2 separate regions of the Homo sapiens genome follow, and region 1 is linked to region 2. The links come from fine-mapping of genetic effects on gene expression. Tissue or cell type: sigmoid colon. Region 2 holds a variant in brackets; the other region holds the start of a gene. All regions are shown on one strand. Distances are from middle to middle.

Region 1 (8,092 bases), 160 kb after region 2:
ATCTTATGAAGATACTCTTTTTAAGCCTTCCTTCTAACCCCACATATCTAACCTGCATAGAGAGTAAGCAAAACAAGATACAACCAGTCCATTAGTGTTTGACTTTGAGTGCCAGGAAAATAAATAATTTGACATAGAATTTTAGCTGATAGAGATAGCTATGAACCAAATGTCCCCTTCTTGCTATTCTAATAAGCAGTGAAATAAGGTGAATGCACCAACTCCTATGTCAAAGCGTAAGAAGTGATGCCCTGAAAACGTCATTAATATCAGTTGTGGTTGTGTTTAACTGATTTTTAAATAGTCTAAATGTCACTAATGAAAGAAAACATAGATAGCTAGAAGAAAAGTTATCTGCAATGAATAAAAATAATACAATAGTAAGACTTTTGCTTATAGAGTATCCTACAACATTATTGCTTTACAGGATATTTCAATAGTAACAAAATACAGAAGCTGTGCATTTACACAAGTGTTATAAACTGTCAATGTGCTTTAAATAATTTCAAGAAACTTTATTTCAACTATGAAGTCTCTGAAAATTGGAAAGAATATTTACCCTTCACCAAGAAACTAAAGTTAAAGGGCATTTATTTTTTCTTTTCTTTTATTTTATTTTTTGAGACAGAGTCTCACTCTTTCACCCAGGCTGGAGTGCAGTGGCGGGATCTCAGCTCACTGCAAGCTCTGCCTCCCGGGTTCACGCCATTCTCCTGCCTCAGCCTCCCGAGTAGCTGGGACTACAGGCACCCGCCACCGCGCCCAGCTAATTTTTGTATTTTTTAGTAGAGACGGGGTTTCATCGTGTTAGCCAGGATGGTCTCGATCTCCTGACCTCGTGATGCACCCGCCTCGGCCTCCCAAAGTGCTGTGATTACAGGCGTGAGCCACCGCACCCAGCCCTAAAGGGCATTTATAACACATATGCTATGAGGTATTTGTGAGGGTGAGGGGGAACTCCAAGTCCAAATCAATAACCTTAAAATATTTTATTTCAAATATCTAGACCTGGCTGTCCAATATGGTAGCCATTAGTAGCCACTAGCCATATGTGGCTACTTAAATTTAATTAAAATAAAATAAAATTCACATCTCAGTTGCACTAGCCATATATTAAGTGCTCAGTAGCTACATCTGGCTGGTGGATACAGATAAGGCACAGATACAGAACATTCCCTGATCACAGAAAGCTCTACTGAACAGCATAGAGTTAGACTATTTCCTGTGTACACATTAACTCCCCAAAGAGAGAGGAAGCTCCTGAAATGTATGGAGTTCCTACTTGTTTTACATACAACATTGAGAACAGGTAGTTCTAAACAGGGAAGTGAAATGTCTTTTGGAGAAGATACAAAGCAGGGCATTCTCTGTGAAAGTATTCATCTATAAGAATAAAACAGTACACTAGGGATGGATGACTGATGCTCAGATGTGTCTGGGACTTTCCTACGCAGAAAAGAATCCAGAAGAGAGCATAATGCAGTGCATTGTGTCCCAAATTGTAGTTTGTATGTCTGACACGAGACGATTTTACATAGCACATGGACCAACATTTTTAGATACACCTTAGAATAACTATACTGTTATTGGAGCAGCCATCAAATGGCTAATTTCACAGATATTGTTTCTTAGGACAAGTTTGATTTTTATAAAAAAAAAAAGTAAGTAAAAACATAGAATAATACAGGTAGTACACAGGTATGGCAAAATTGTTAGGTAGTAAGTGAATGGGATGCTGGGAAACAGCATAATGCCAAGAGTCTGGGAGTCCTACAGATATGGATTCTAAACCTAATCCTGAGTAGTTCGGTAGCATTTAGTAGTATGCTACTTGCCTTTTGAGTAAGCTTGGACAAGGTTCTAGTTTTCCTGAAGTTACTGACACATTTTTAAAATACCTACTAACCCTACTGAGATATCCGACCATTGAGTGATAACATATAGTACGCATATTAGCACTCGATGAAGATAGATCTCCTTCTTTTTCCCCAAGGAAGAGATGAGAGAGTGTATCGATTCCCCCTGACAAAGGAGATGAAACTTTAGAAGAGAAACTCCTATTCACCTGTGACTTCGTTGATCTTCCTCCTCATAGGGAAGGCCAGAATGCTGAAATGACAAGGCTAGGGAAGAGAAAGAAGTTCTGAAAGACCAGGTCTGCATTAAAGAACCTAAATTAGCAACTTAGGTCCTTGCTATGGTAGAACCGGAACTTCTGGTCCTTTCTTACCTGACCATTCCCTCACGTTGGGTGTTTTCTCCTCTCACATTGACACTGCACAGACTGTTACCCACCCCAGATCCTAGGTTACATAACGCTCGCCTCTCTCCTGGGGCAAACTCTCTCCATGATTTCTTCGTTCCCCCGTACTCTAGATGCAATGACTTGATCCAATCCCTGCTCCCTGAAAGTAAAAGGGTCAGACATAACCAAGATCCCCAAGGAGCTCCGAGATCAGTTCCCTCTTCCAGCTCCATTCTCAACCCAGCAGCTCAAGCAAGAGACCTTATGACAGCGGCTCTTTCTCTCAGATGGGTTACTGCCTTCTGCAGAATTGCCGATGGCAACATCCTGACTTGTTCAGTGCGGCCCGGACTTGTGGGCTCCGCGGGCGTTTGCCTTCAGGGAAGATCTTTCCTCTGGCCCTAAAGCACTGTCTCCCAGGGAGTGCCATGCATGCCCTAAAGTGTACTGAGCACTTCCTACAGTTCTGGCAGAGCCAGGAATAAGAACAGGGAGCCGTCCACCTCGGGAAGGAGTCCCGGCCAACAGCACTGTGTTCCGAGGGCGAAGGTCCAGAACGGGAACCCGGCCTGTGAGGGGAGACGAGACGAGCCGCTTCCCGGGAGCCGCGCCCACCAAGGGAGGGAGACGCGGCGATCGCAGGGACAGAACCCTAAGCTCCGAAACGCAGCCTCCCAGCCCATTCTCCGGCCTTCCCCTAACCTCTGATACTCCTCCGAACCTCGGACTCCACCTGGTTTCGCCGCGGCCTCGGAGCTGCTCCCGGACGCTCCCGGCGAGGAGACTGAGGAAGCCGGGCAGAGCGCGCTGCCGGAGCGGACTACACAGTCGGCCCGCCACTCGCAAAAAAGCCGCCCAGAGCCCAGTCCCAGAGTGCCCCGCGGCTGCCCACGGACCGCCTTCCCAGAGGCCCTCGCGGCGCCGCCTACCTCGCGAGGCTGCGGCTGGGGCAGAAATCCGTCTCTGTGAGCGGAGGAGGGTGTGCTTATGCGAGAGCAGGTTTTGGGAGCTCACTAAAGCAGGTCAGTCCCTCTGTTTGCGCCGTTGTCTGTGGGTCGTTTAATTCCGGGCGCAGCTGATCTGTAACTTCCCTCACTGGCGAGGTCTCCCAGTTACCACCGGGACAATCCGAGCAAGGTCTGGGCCCCTCGCTGCCCCCGGTGAAGTGCCGCGTCTCCGCTTGGCCATCCGTGGATTCAGCATCCCCACCTTAGCACCTCCCGCCGGCTTTTCCATTGAGAGCAAAACCACGAACTCACTTTTGAGAGATGCTGGCGCTCCCCTCATCAATATTTCTTTTTTTTTTTCTGTTTGCTTACTTTTAACTAACCTTTTATTGATAAATATAACACAATTTTATTCTGAAATATAAACCAAAGATAAGTATAATTATGAACAGCCAAGTCATTAGAGCGAAAAAAGAATAGTGTCAGGTTCTTCACAGATACACTTCCTGAGAAAACCACTAGCCCGACTTTTATAACACTTTGCTTTTCTTATTTATATTTATTTATTTATTTATTTTACCAAAAGCAGATACTTGACTCTTTGCTTTTCTTTACGGTTTATCACGCATACTTGAAAACTGGATTTATGACAAAGGTGGCATCATACAGCCATGGAGAAAAGATGGTCTATTCAGTGAAGGTTCTATGACAATATGAAGGCCGGGCACGGTGGCTCACGCCTGTAATCCCAGCACTTTGGGAGGCTGAGGTGGGCGGATCACGAGGTTAAGAGATCGAGACCATCCTGGCCAACATGGTGAAACCCTGTCTCTACTAAAAAGTACAAAAATTAGCTGGGTGTGGTGGCACACACCTGTAGTCCCAGCTATTCAGGAGGCTGAAGCAGGAGAATCGCTTGAACCGGGAGGCGGAGGTTGCAGTGAGCGGAGATCACACCACTGCACTTCAGCCTGGGCAACAGAGGGAGACTCCGTCTCAAAAAAAAAAACAAAACAGAAAACAGGACCTCTATCTCTCATTTCATCACAAAAATCAATTGTAGCTGGATTAAGACCTAAATGTGAAATCCTAAACTATAAAGTCTTCAGAATATAATATAGGAAAATATCTTTGGACTTCAGAATAGGTAAATATTTTAAAACAAAAATAGAAAAACATTAAATTGGCCAGGCATGGTGGCTCATGCCTGTAATACCAACACTTTGGGAGGCCCAGGTAGGCGGATCACTTGAGGTCAGGAGTTGAGACCAGCCTGGCCAACATAGTGAAACCCCGTTTCTAGTAAAAATACAAAAAATTAGCCAAGTGTGGTGGCAGGTGCCTGTAATCTCAGCTACTTGGGAGGCTGAGGCAGGAGAATCACTTGAACCTGGGAGGCGGAGTTTGCAGTGAGCCGACAACAGGCCACTGCACTCCAGCCTGGGTGATAAAGTGAGACTCTGTCTCAAAAAAAAAAAGGAAAAAAAGAAAGAGAAAAAAGGAAAGAAAAAGAAAGAAAGAGAAAGAAAGAAAAGAAAAGAAAGAAAGAGAAACATTAAATTAAGACAACTACAGGCTGAGTGCAGTGGCTCACACACCTGTAATCCTAGAACTCTGGGAGGCCGAAGTGGGTGGATCCCTTGAGCTCAGTTCAGAAACCAGCTGGGGTAACATGGTGAAAACACGTCTCTACAAAAAATACAAAAATTAGCTGGGGGTGGTGATACGTGCCTGTAGTCCCAGCTACTCTGGTGCGTCAGTTGGGAAAATTTTGAAGTGACTTGTGTTTTAGATAATATTATCAATCAATTATAGGTCTCCTGAGTGTCATAATGATTTTGTGGTTATGTAGGAAAATGTTCTTTTTCTTAGAAATATGTAAGTTGAGGCCAGGTACGGTGGCTCTCGCCTGTAATCCTAGCACTTTGGGAGGCCGAGGCGGGCGGATCACCTGAAGTCAGGAGTTCAAGACCAGCCTGGCCAACATGGTGAAACCCTGTCTCTACTAAAATACAAAAATTAGCCGGGCATGATGGCAGGTGCCTGTAATCCTAGCTACTCGGGAGGCTGAGATGGGAGAATCGCTTGAAACCGGGAGATGGTGGTTGCAGTGAGCCGAGATCATGCCACTGCACTCCAGCCTGGGTGGCTGACTGAGACTCTTGTCTCAAAAAAAAAAAAAAAAAAAAATGGAATTTAAGTGTATTAAATAGTCTGTTCTCATGCTGCTAATAAAGACATACCTGAGATTGGGTAATTTATAAAGGAAAGAGATTTAATTGACTCACGGCTCCACATGGCGGGGGAGGCCTCACAATCATGGAGGAAGGTGAAGGAGGAGCAAAGTCACCTCTTACATGGTGGCAGGCAAGAGAGAACATGTGCAGGGGAACACACCTTTATAAAACCATCAGGTCAGCTGGGTGTGGTGCCTTATGCCCGTAATCCCAGCACTTTGGGAGGCCATGGCTGGTGGATCACCTAAGGTCAGGAGTTCAAGACCAGCCTGGCCAACATGGTGAAACCCTATCTCTACTAAAAATACAAAAAATTAGCCAAGCATGGTGGCAGACGCCTGTAATCCCAGCTATTCGGGAGGCTGAGGCAGGAGAATCACTTGAACCTGGGAGGCGGAGGTTGTGGTGAGCTGAGATCGCGCCACTGCACTCCAGCCTGGGCAACAAGAGTGAAATTCCATCTCAAAAACAAAAACGAAACAAAACAAAACCATCAGATCTTGTGAGACTTATTCACTATCACGAGAACAGCATGGGAAAGACCTGCCCCCACGATTCAATTACCTCCTACCAGGTACCTCTTCCATGATATGTGGGAATTATGGGAGCTACACTTCAAGATGAGATTTGGGTTGGGAGACAACCAAACCATATCATTGAGGAAATGCTTTTTAATCCATTGAGATATGAGAAGGCATTTCTGGATTGAGGCTACAAAAACTTTCTGCCTCTTCCCCAACATAACCTTTCTTACTTGAGATGTAAACTGAATGCCAGGAAAACCCCTCCCCAACCCCTTCACACATGGACCACTCCTCAAATGGGGTTTGAGGGGCAATGACACTGGGTAGAGTGAAGCAGAAGAGATTTAGAAACAGTCATGGAATTTGTGGGGAAAATAAATATCAAAAACATAGTACCATATATTCCCCAAAACTTTCAGCCTAAAGACTGTGGGTCTCAAAACTGAGAAAAGAATGCCCTTTTCCCCAAAAGGCTATCCTAGGAAGTCTGAGTCCTTAAGGCCCACCTGTATGCAAAAGTCACTGATTTGGTTCTTCCATCTCCAGGTCTGTAACCATCAAAATACTGTTAGACACAAATGGCCCATTTTCCTCTGTGTCCATTCTTCCCTCCTTGGTGTTTTGGAGCACAGGACTGTACCCCTAACATTGTACTGACTACAGTCTACCATATATCGGAGTAAGTCTTTATGTGATTACTCCCAGAGCTGCACTGTCCAATACAGTAGCCACTAGTCATATGTGGCTCTTGAACACTTGAAATGTGGCTAGTCCAAAATGAAATGTGCTATAATTATAACATTTACAAGCACTTTGAAGCTGAGTACAAAAAAAAGGTTAAATAACTCACTAATAATGTTTACATTGATTAAATGTTGAGATGATAATGTTTTGGATATATTGGTGATATGGTTTGGCTCTGTGTTTTCCACCCAAATCTCACCTTGAATTTTAATAATCCCCATGTGTCATGGGAGGGACCCAGTGGTAGGCAATTGAATCATGGGGACGAGTTTTTCCTGTGCTGTTCCCGTGATAGTGAATAAGTCTCACAATATCTGATGGTTTTATAAAGGGGAGTTCCCCTACACAAGCTTCTTGCCTGCTGCCATGTAAGACATGCCTGCTCTTCCTTCGCCTCCCGCCATGATTGTGAGGCCTCTCCAGCCATGTGCAATGGTGAGGCCATTAAACCTCTTTCCTTTATAAATTACCCAGTCTTGGGTATGTCTTTATTAGCAGCATGAGAACAGACTAATAAAACTGAGTTAAATAAAACATCTTAAAATTAAGCTGGGTGTGGTGGCTCATGCCTGTAATTCCAGCACTATGGGAGGCCAAGGTGGGTGAATCACCTGAGGTCAGGATTTCAAGACCAGCCTGGCCAACATGGCAAAACCCCATCTCTACTACAAATACAGAAATTAGCCAGGCATAGTGGCATGTGCCTGTAGTCCCAGCTACTCAGGAGGCTGAGGCATGAGAATCTCTTGAACCCAGGAGGCAGAGGTTGCAGTGAACCAAGACTGCACTACTGCACTCCAGCCTGGGCAACAGAGTGACTCTGTCTTTAAAAAAAAATTAATTTTACTTGCTGTTTTTTGTTGTATTAATGTAGCTGCTAGAAAATTTAAAATTACATATGTTTGCATTTGTGTTGTGGCTTACATTATATTTCTGTTGTACAGTGCTGCTCTGGAGTATCAGAGCCTTAAAGGAAGAGAATTTATCTTGCTCAAATTGTGTTCCTCACAGGTATAGGGGCAATAATCGGCATACTCTTTACATGCTCAAGAGAACTCCATTGACAATATTCAGTATTTGAGAATCTTCTATTCCTTATATGAGAATCAGCCTCTCTCTTGAGTCAAACTCCAATTTCTGGCAATTGAAAGGGGCATTTTTAGTCGGAGAAAGCAGGAGGAGGTAGCCCTAGGCCAGGAAGTTGTGGGGGGTGAGAATGAGCTAAGGATGAACGACTGGGGCATGCTTCTGCTAAAAGAAGGCAGCTTCGGATATGGTACATTATGAACCCTTGAGTCAAGGGGTTTTCTCTTTCCATTTCTTGGATCTGTTTCTCCTGTGTTTGCTCCATATCCGGCAGCCTCCCTCCTCTTCCACTGCTAGTAGCTTCCAGGA
Region 2 (8,108 bases):
CCGGTTGGAATTACAGGCATGAGCCACCATACCTGGCTGTCTCTGACTTCTCTACTTCAACTCCTTCTGCCACCTGACAATTTCTTTCCTTTTTTTTTTTTCCTGAGACAGGGTCTCACTCTATCACCCAGGCTGTAGTGCAGTGGCATGGCACGATCTTGGCTCACTGCCACCTCTGCCTCCCAGGCTCAAATGATCCTCCCACCTCAGCCTCCAAAGTAGCTGAGAATACAGGCATGCACCACCATGCTTGGCTAATTAAAAAAAATTTTTTTTCCTTTCGTAGAGACAAAGTCTCACTGTTGTCCAGGCTGGTCTTGAGCTCCTGGGCTTAACTGATCCTCCCACCTTGACCTCTCGAAGTTCTGGGGTTTTGTGTGTGAGGCGCCATGCCTGGGACAACAATGTCTTTCTCTTCCTTGGTTCAATAAAGCCTCGAATCAGCCCATCTTAGATTGTTGTGCTAGGTTGTCTTAGTTCATTTTGTGCTGCTATATCAGAATATCTGAAACTAGGTAATTTATAAGGTATAGAAATATATTTCTTACAGCTCTAAAGCCTGGTAAGTCTAAGGTTTAGGGGTGCACACCTGGCAAGGGCCTTCTTGCTGTGTATTCCATGGCAGCAGGTGAAGGGCAAGAGAGCAAGACAGCATGAGAGGGACAGAGAGAAGGGGAGAGAGAAAGAGAGAGAGAAGAAGAAATGGGGTTGAATGCATCCTTTTATCAGGAACCCACTCCCTCAATATCGTCATTAATTTATTTATGATGGCAGAGTCCCCATGACCTAATCACCTCCTGAAGGTCCCTCCTCTCAACACTGTTGCCTTGGGGATTAAGTTTCCAGCACATGAACCTTGGGGAACACATTCACACCATAGTATACACCATTGGTCAGAGGACAGCAGCTAATATATTAAATGGTGACCCTTGACTCCGGTGCTGGCCCTATCTGCTCAAGTCTAGAGGCTGGAGGGGCCAGGTGGTTTAAAGCGTGGCCCCAGCAGGGTTTGTGGTCTGGGCAGCTTTTCCTTAAAGTGAATGTGAGTGAGGCAGAAACTGTACCATCACTAGGACCATGTGATTGGAGCTCAGGATTCCAGATTTCCTGCCCAGAACATTTCCCATGAAATTGTCATTTCTTTATTCAGCAGACATGTCGTAATGCTTGTTAAATGTCAATTATGAATATCTTCTTCCTCCTCCTCTTCTTCCTTCTTGCCCCCAGAAGCTTATGATATAATGAAGATAAAGGCAGGAAAATAATTAGAAAACATGAGCACTTTAGAAGAAGTATAAACAATAACCACTTACTGTAAGCGGTAGCTACTGTTATTGTTTATGCATCTTCTAAAGTGTTCATTTATTCTCATTATTTTCTTGTCTTTATCTTTATTATATCATGTATCTGACTGGTACGTATACCAGTCACTGCTGATCACTTTACATATGTTTTCTCATTTAATCTTTACAACTCCCCTGTGATGCCAGCACCACATTTCACACATGTGGAAGGAAACAGGCTCAGAGAGTGATCCACAGATAATAAACAGCACAGCAGGGCTCTGATGCTAAAGCCTGTTCTGTTAACCACTGTGCAGTCTTCACCATGCTGTTAGAGCACAGGGGACCATCTTGGCCTAGGTAGAAGGACAGGGACGACTGGAGAAAGCAGTGGACTTCCAGGAGGAGGTGACATCTGAGCTCATCATGAGCAAGCTTTCCTCAGTCAAGTGTTGGCAAGGCTCACTGTAAACAGAGGAAGCCACATGTGGGAATAGCAAGATGCCAGCAGAGTACAGGGAAAAGCTAGAGTGGGGGTGTGAGTGGGAAGAGGGCCAGGAGCACATTGCACGACCCATGAGTGAGCGCCTCCCTACTTCTGTACCCTCGGTCCCTTTGCCCTGACCCTATTCCTAGCCCTGGCGGAGAATGTGAAGATGAGGCCAGAGGGAACATTGAGAAGAAGGATCTCAGAGAAGAAGGAAAATTCAGCAGAACCTAGGAAGTGCAACTGCTATTGCCTGGGCCTTTGTTCCTGGAATGGACTCTGAGAGTGCATGGTAAAGTCTAAAGTGAAAAATTCAAGAGGAGGGAGCTTTCTTTTACCTGACTTTTGGGTCTTAATCTTAGTTGTTACTTCCTTTAGGAAACATTCCTTGGTCTAACAAGCCTGAGACCCTGAGATGCTTTTTTTTTTGAGATGGAGCCTTGCTGTGTCTCCAGGCTGGAGTGCAGTGGTGCATTCTTGGCTCACTGCAACCTCCGCCTCCCAGTTTCAAGCAATTCTCTTGCTTCAGCCTCCCAAGTGGCTGGGATTACAGGCACCTGCCACCACGCTCCGCTAATTTTTGTATTTTTAGTAGAGACAGGTTTTCACCATGTTGGTCAGATTGGTCTTGAACTCCTGACCTCAAGCAATCCACCTGCCTTGGCCTTCCACAGTGCCAGGATTACAGGCATAATCACAGCCTGTAATCCACCATGCCCGGCCTTTTTTTTTTTTTTTTCTCCAGAGATGGGGTCTTACCCTGTCACCTAGGCTGGAGTGCAGTGATACAATCAGTTTACTGTAGCCTTGAACTCCTGGACTCAAGCAGTCTTCTGCCTCAGCCTCCTGAGTAGCTGAAATTACAAATGTCAGCCACCACACTGGTTTGGCGGCTAGGTCTTATTTACCCTTCCACCCCCAATAGAGCATGTGGCTCAGAGTAGCTGCTCAGTAAAAGACTGATGAATGAATAACAAATAGCCTCCAAGGAGCTTCTGCCAAGTCTTTCAGACCACATCGATTTTCTCTCTGTCTCTGGAGTCCTACTGACCTTAACACTTGGAATCCTATGCGTGTTTGAACCAGAAGAAACCTTAAAAATCATCTAGCGGCCAGGCACGGTGGCTCACGCCTGTAATCCCAGCACTTTAGGAGGCCGAGGCAGGTGGATCACGAGGTCAGGAGATCGAGACCATCTTGGCTAACACGGTGAAACCCCGTCTCTACTAAAAATACAAAAAATTAGCTGGGCGTGGTGGCGGGCACCTGTAGTCCCAGCTACTCAGGAGGCTGAGGCAGGAGAATGGTGTGAACCCGGGAGGCGGAGCTTGCAGTGAGCCGAGATAGCACCACTGCAGTCCGGCCTGGGTGAAAGAGCGAGACTCCGTCTCAAAAAAAAAAAAAAAAAAAAAATCATCTAGCTATCTCCTACCTCTACCATCTCAAAGATGGGGTGATTGAGGTGATCACTTATTTGCCAACTGTATTAGTCTGTTCTTGCATTGCTATAAGGAAATACCTGAGACTGGGTAATTTATAAAGAAAAGGGAGGCTGGGCACGGTGGCTCATGCCTGTAATCTCAGCACTTTGGGAGGCTGAGGTGGGCAGATCACTTGAGATCAGGAGTTCGAGACCAGCCTGGGCAACATGGTAAAACCCTGTCTCTACCAAAAATAATTAGCTGGGCATGGTGGTACATGCCTGTAGTCACAGCTACTTGGGAGACTGAGGTAGGAGAATCCCTTGAACCTGGGAGGTGGAGGTTGCAGTGAGCTGAGATCACGCCACTGCACTCCAGCCTAAGCCTAGGTGACAGAGTGAGACTCCATCAAAAAAAAAAAAAAAAAAAGAAAAGAAAGGAAAGGGGTTTAATTGGCTCAGAGTTCCACAGGCTGTACAGGAAGCATGATACTAGCATCTGCTTGCCTTCTGGGGAAGCCTCAGGAAGCTTCCAATCATGGCTGAAGGCAAAGGGGGAGCCAGCGCGTCTTACATGGCAGGAGCAGGAGCAAGACAGAGTGGTCGGGTGGTGCCACACACTTTTAAACAACTGGATCTCATGAGAACTCACTCACTATAATGAGAAGAGCACCAAGGGGATGGTGCTAAACCATTCATGAGAAACCACCCCTAGT[A/TA]TAATCATCTCCCACCAGGCCCCACCTCCAACACTGGGGATTACAAATTTGACATGAGATTTAGGTGGGAACACAGATCCAAACCATATCACCAACAATCTTAGTTTTGTATCTCCAGCCACAGTTTCTCTTCTGAACTCCACAGTGAATCAGCTGCCTATGCAGCCCTCATCTGGGATGTCCCACAGTGTGTGCATCTAAACACATCCAGAATCAGCATCCCCCCCAAGGCCTAGGCATCATTCAGGCTTCCCTGTCTTGGTGAAGAACATCACCACCCAACCAGTTGTAGGGACCACCTACCTCCTACAGCCTCCCACTACCAATAAAACAGCAAGTCCAGCAGTGTCTACTACCTAAACCACAAAATCTCTCCAATTTCCCTCTGCCTCCCTAGCCCAAATCCCCATAGCTCTCAATGGACCCCTGCAAAAGTCTCATTAGTTTCCCCAAATCTGCTCTTTCTTTGTACTAATCCATGCTCCTCATTGCAGCTGGAGTGACATTTAAAAAATGCTACTTTCTCCTTTAACTCCTTTGCTGAAAGATTTCCAATATCTCTCCACTTAAAAAAATATATATTATTAAGTTATTGGCCAGGCGCAGTGGCTCACTCCTGTAATCCCAGCACTTTGGGAGGCTGAGGTGGGTGGATCAGGATTCAAGACTAGCCTGGCCAATATGGTGAAACCCCATCTCTACAAAAAACACAAAAATTAGCCAGGCGTAGTGGCACATGCCTGTAATCCCAGCTACCCAGGAGGCTGAGGCAGAAGAATTGCTTCAACCTGGGAGGCGGAGATTGCAGTGAGCAGAGATCACGCCACTGCCTCCTGGGTAACAGAGTGAGACTCCATCTCAAATATATATATATATATATATATATATATATATATAAAATTATAACTAACACTTATGGAAAATTTATATCCTAAGGTCTGTTCTAAGAACTTTACACATATTAACTCATTTAATCCTCATAACTCTAAATATTCCCATTATACAGACAAGGAAACAGAAACTCAGAGAAGCAACTTCAGGGCCTTTGTGTAAGCTCTTACCCATCCTTGGCTTGTTGATCTGGCTGACTGCTATTCAAGCTTCAGATGGGATGCCTTGGGGAGCATTCAAAGATCTCCCTGTCTAGGCCAGTCCCTCCCATAGCATCTAACCCAGTTTTTATTATACAATTATTTAGGGGGTGATTTGGTTCATGTCTGTCACCCCCATAGGCTTTAAATTCCATGTTTTGCTCATAATTATATCTTGAATATTCAACATATAATAAATACTTGATATTTGTTGAATGAATCAATGAAAAGCATTTTCAGTAAGAGAGGGGATGTGGTCAGATTTGTTTTAGAAGGATTTCTCTTGTGTAAAAGTTTGAAGGTGGTGAGACCAAGTCACCAACAGCAGCTGAATTCAGGAGTGACAGGAAGGCAGGCTGGACTAGAGGAGAGGCAAGAGGGATGGAGAGAAGTGGGTGAACCTAGGAAGTATTTAGGAAGCAAACTGGATGGCTCTGATAATTAAGTGGATAGAAGTGAGGAAGAGGAAGGAATCAGGAGGGACTCCCAAGTTTCTGAGAGCACCTTGAACTGGGGTGAGAAAGCATCTGCAAAGGAGGCAGGTTGGGTTGGCAGAGCAGGCTGTCCCTAGACCCAAGCAACTGAAACATGGAAAAGCTTTCAAAAAAATCTTTGCACCCAAACTCCTTAGCTTGGTCCTGGTGTACTTTATTCAGCCCCATCTGTGGTCTACCCCCAAACTCAGAGCATATAGATCACTGCTCCTCCCCCAAGCCCCACTTGTCATCCAGCCCACCTTAGTAAGTGCCACCCCACTACTCTCTCTCCACAAGATGCAGCTTGGAGGACGTCTCCTCTGGGATCCCTCCCCACTGCCCCCACCGCTTCCTGGGGTGAATGAGTCCTCTGTAGCCATCAGGATTCGCTGTATCAGGAGTGTTCCTCTGCTGTCACCTCTGATGACTATTTTCCTCAATTCAGAATCCCCAGCACCTGCAAAAGGCCTGGATAAAGGTAAACCTCAAAAAAGTTTGTTTTATTGAATTTTCCCAAAGGTTTGGCTTTATTACATTAAGAGCTGAGGCCAGGAATGTGGCAGTAAATTCTGGTGCCACCACTTAGAAAGACAAGTCACTTTTTTCAAGCCTCAGTTTCCGTCCATCAAATGGAGATAAGAATACAGTGCACCTACCTCGAAGAGCTGTTTTGAGGGGAAAATGAAATATGCTAGGTTAAGTGTTTAACACAATGCCTGGAACATGGTTAGTTCCCTCAAAAAATTAGCTGTTATTTATTTATTTTTAAATTCTCGCCTTGATGCTCAGAAGGGGCTGAGCAGGAACAGAGGATTGCAGTTCTTAGGATGGCCACGCGAGGGAAGTGGTGAGCAGCCTCCAGGAGGACTTCGGCTCGGCTGTGCCAAGGCACCTGCTGAGGACCCAGATGGCCCGCCTGGGGTTTCCGGGACTTCCCGGCCCCTAAACATGTGGGCGCTGGCCAGAGCGCCGCAGGAGAAGCCTCTGCCAGGTGCTCGGTCTCGACTCTCACAGCCCCAGCCATCCCTCCTGCTCGTCCCCGTCTCGGCTTGGAGGGGCTGGCGGGCAGGAGGGGACAGGGTAGGGGGCAACCAGGATATATCCCCTCCGTTTTGTCATTTGTCTTTCAAACTGACTTATGGCCATTTCTTCTGTATAGAAGCCTTGTAGTCAAACATTTCCATGTTTTCTCTTATGGCTTCTAGGTTTCATCATGCTTAGAAAGTCTTTTCCATCTCCAAGATTATTAAAATATTCACTCATGTCTTTTTTCTGATACATTATGGTGTTAAATATGTGGTCCACCTGGAATTTATTTCAGTGTCGAATAAGGGCACAGCTTTTTGTAATTTCCCCAAAAGACTTGCTGGTTATTCCACCCATTTGATCTCCGCCACCAACCCCCCCCCCCCCGCCCACAACCCCCTACCAACTCCGCCCCCCATTTGTCTGAAGTGCTGTCTTTTATTCATTCATTCATTTAGAGACAAGGTCTTGCTCTGTTGCCCAGGCTGGAGTGCAGTGGCGTGATCACAGCTCACTGCAGCCTTGACCTCCCAGGCTCAGGTAATCCTCCCACTTCAGCCTCCCTGGTAGCTGGGACTACAGGTGTGTGCAATCATGCCCAGATAAATTTTTTTTTTTTTTTTTTTTTTGAGACAGAGTCTTGCTCTGTTACCAGGCTGGAGTGCAGTGGTGCGATCTCAGTTCACTGCAACCTCCGCCTCCTGGGTTCAAGCGATTCTCCTGCCTCAGTCTCCCAAGTAGTTGGGACTACAGGTGCATGCCACCACACCCAGCTAATTTTTGTATTTTTAGTTGAGACAGGGTTTCACCATGTTGGCTAGGATGGTCTCAATCTCTTGATCTTGTGATCCGCCTGCCTCGGCCTCCCAAAGTGCTGGGATTACAGGTGTGAGCCACCGCCCCCGGCCACAAGTTTTGTATTTTTTTATAGAGACAAAGTTTTGCCATGTTGCCCAGGCTAGTCTCAAGTGATCTGCCCGCCTCAACCTCCCAAAGTTTTGGGATTACTGGCATGAGCCACTGTGCCGGGCCTGAAGTGCTATCTTTATCATACATTGAATTCCCTTGTGGGGCTGGATCCATTTCCATACTCCATTTTGTTCCACAGATCGGTCTAGTCCTGCTTCAATACCATACTGCTTTAAATACATTGACTTTATAGTATGTTTTAGTATCGGGTAAGACAAATCCCTTTTCATTACTTTTCTTCCTGGACTTTTTATTCCTGTATGTTTATTCTTCTATATACACTTAAGAATCAACCCCCTCTCCACCCACCTCCCATCCAGTCCTTCTGGTAACCAATATAGAACTTTGAAGATACTGAAATTATATGCAAAATATACATTGCACATCTCCAGAGAGATAGTGCTAAGTTTTCATCAGATGTGCAAAGGGAACCCCTGGTTTACCTGTCTCTGTGAAAGGGGCCAGGGAGGAGCACACAGGAAGCCTGATTCCTCTCTGTGCTCCCACCCCTCACCTCCACCCTCGTTCCAGGTCCTGCCCTGGCCTCCATCCCACCTCCCCTAATCTAGTCCCCCTTGCTGCTCCAGAGTAACCCATTCTACCACCCAGGCCCTAGTCCAGGCCTAGGCCTGAGGTAGAA

What was found. PIP is the estimated chance that this variant, and not a neighbour inherited with it, causes the effect.
Region 1: EXO5-DT starts here. The variant in region 2 is fine-mapped to the expression of EXO5-DT in sigmoid colon (GTEx, PIP 0.95).

The regions. Positions count from the first base shown.
Region 1 is chr1:40,503,764-40,511,855 of GRCh38, reverse strand. It overlaps EXO5-DT (EXO5 divergent transcript), which reads left to right and starts at 3,161. Exons shown (of 2, transcript NR_187365.1): 1 at 3,161-3,267. It overlaps EXO5 (exonuclease 5), which reads right to left and starts at 3,089. Exons shown (of 4, transcript NM_001346953.2): 1 at 2,948-3,089; 2 at 2,231-2,405; 3 at 2,066-2,123. RefSeq lists enhancers at 2,683-2,772, 2,803-3,052.
Region 2 is chr1:40,667,270-40,675,377 of GRCh38, reverse strand. It overlaps LOC105378675 (a long non-coding RNA gene), which reads right to left. Exons shown (of 2, transcript XR_947238.3): 2 at 7,702-8,108. It also overlaps a transcript of RIMS3 not described here. Among named protein-coding and RNA genes, the nearest start is that of RIMS3, 5.6 kb to the right of the region's middle. RefSeq lists enhancers at 6,208-6,257, 6,318-6,467. The variant A/TA (reference allele first, on the strand shown) is at 3,907.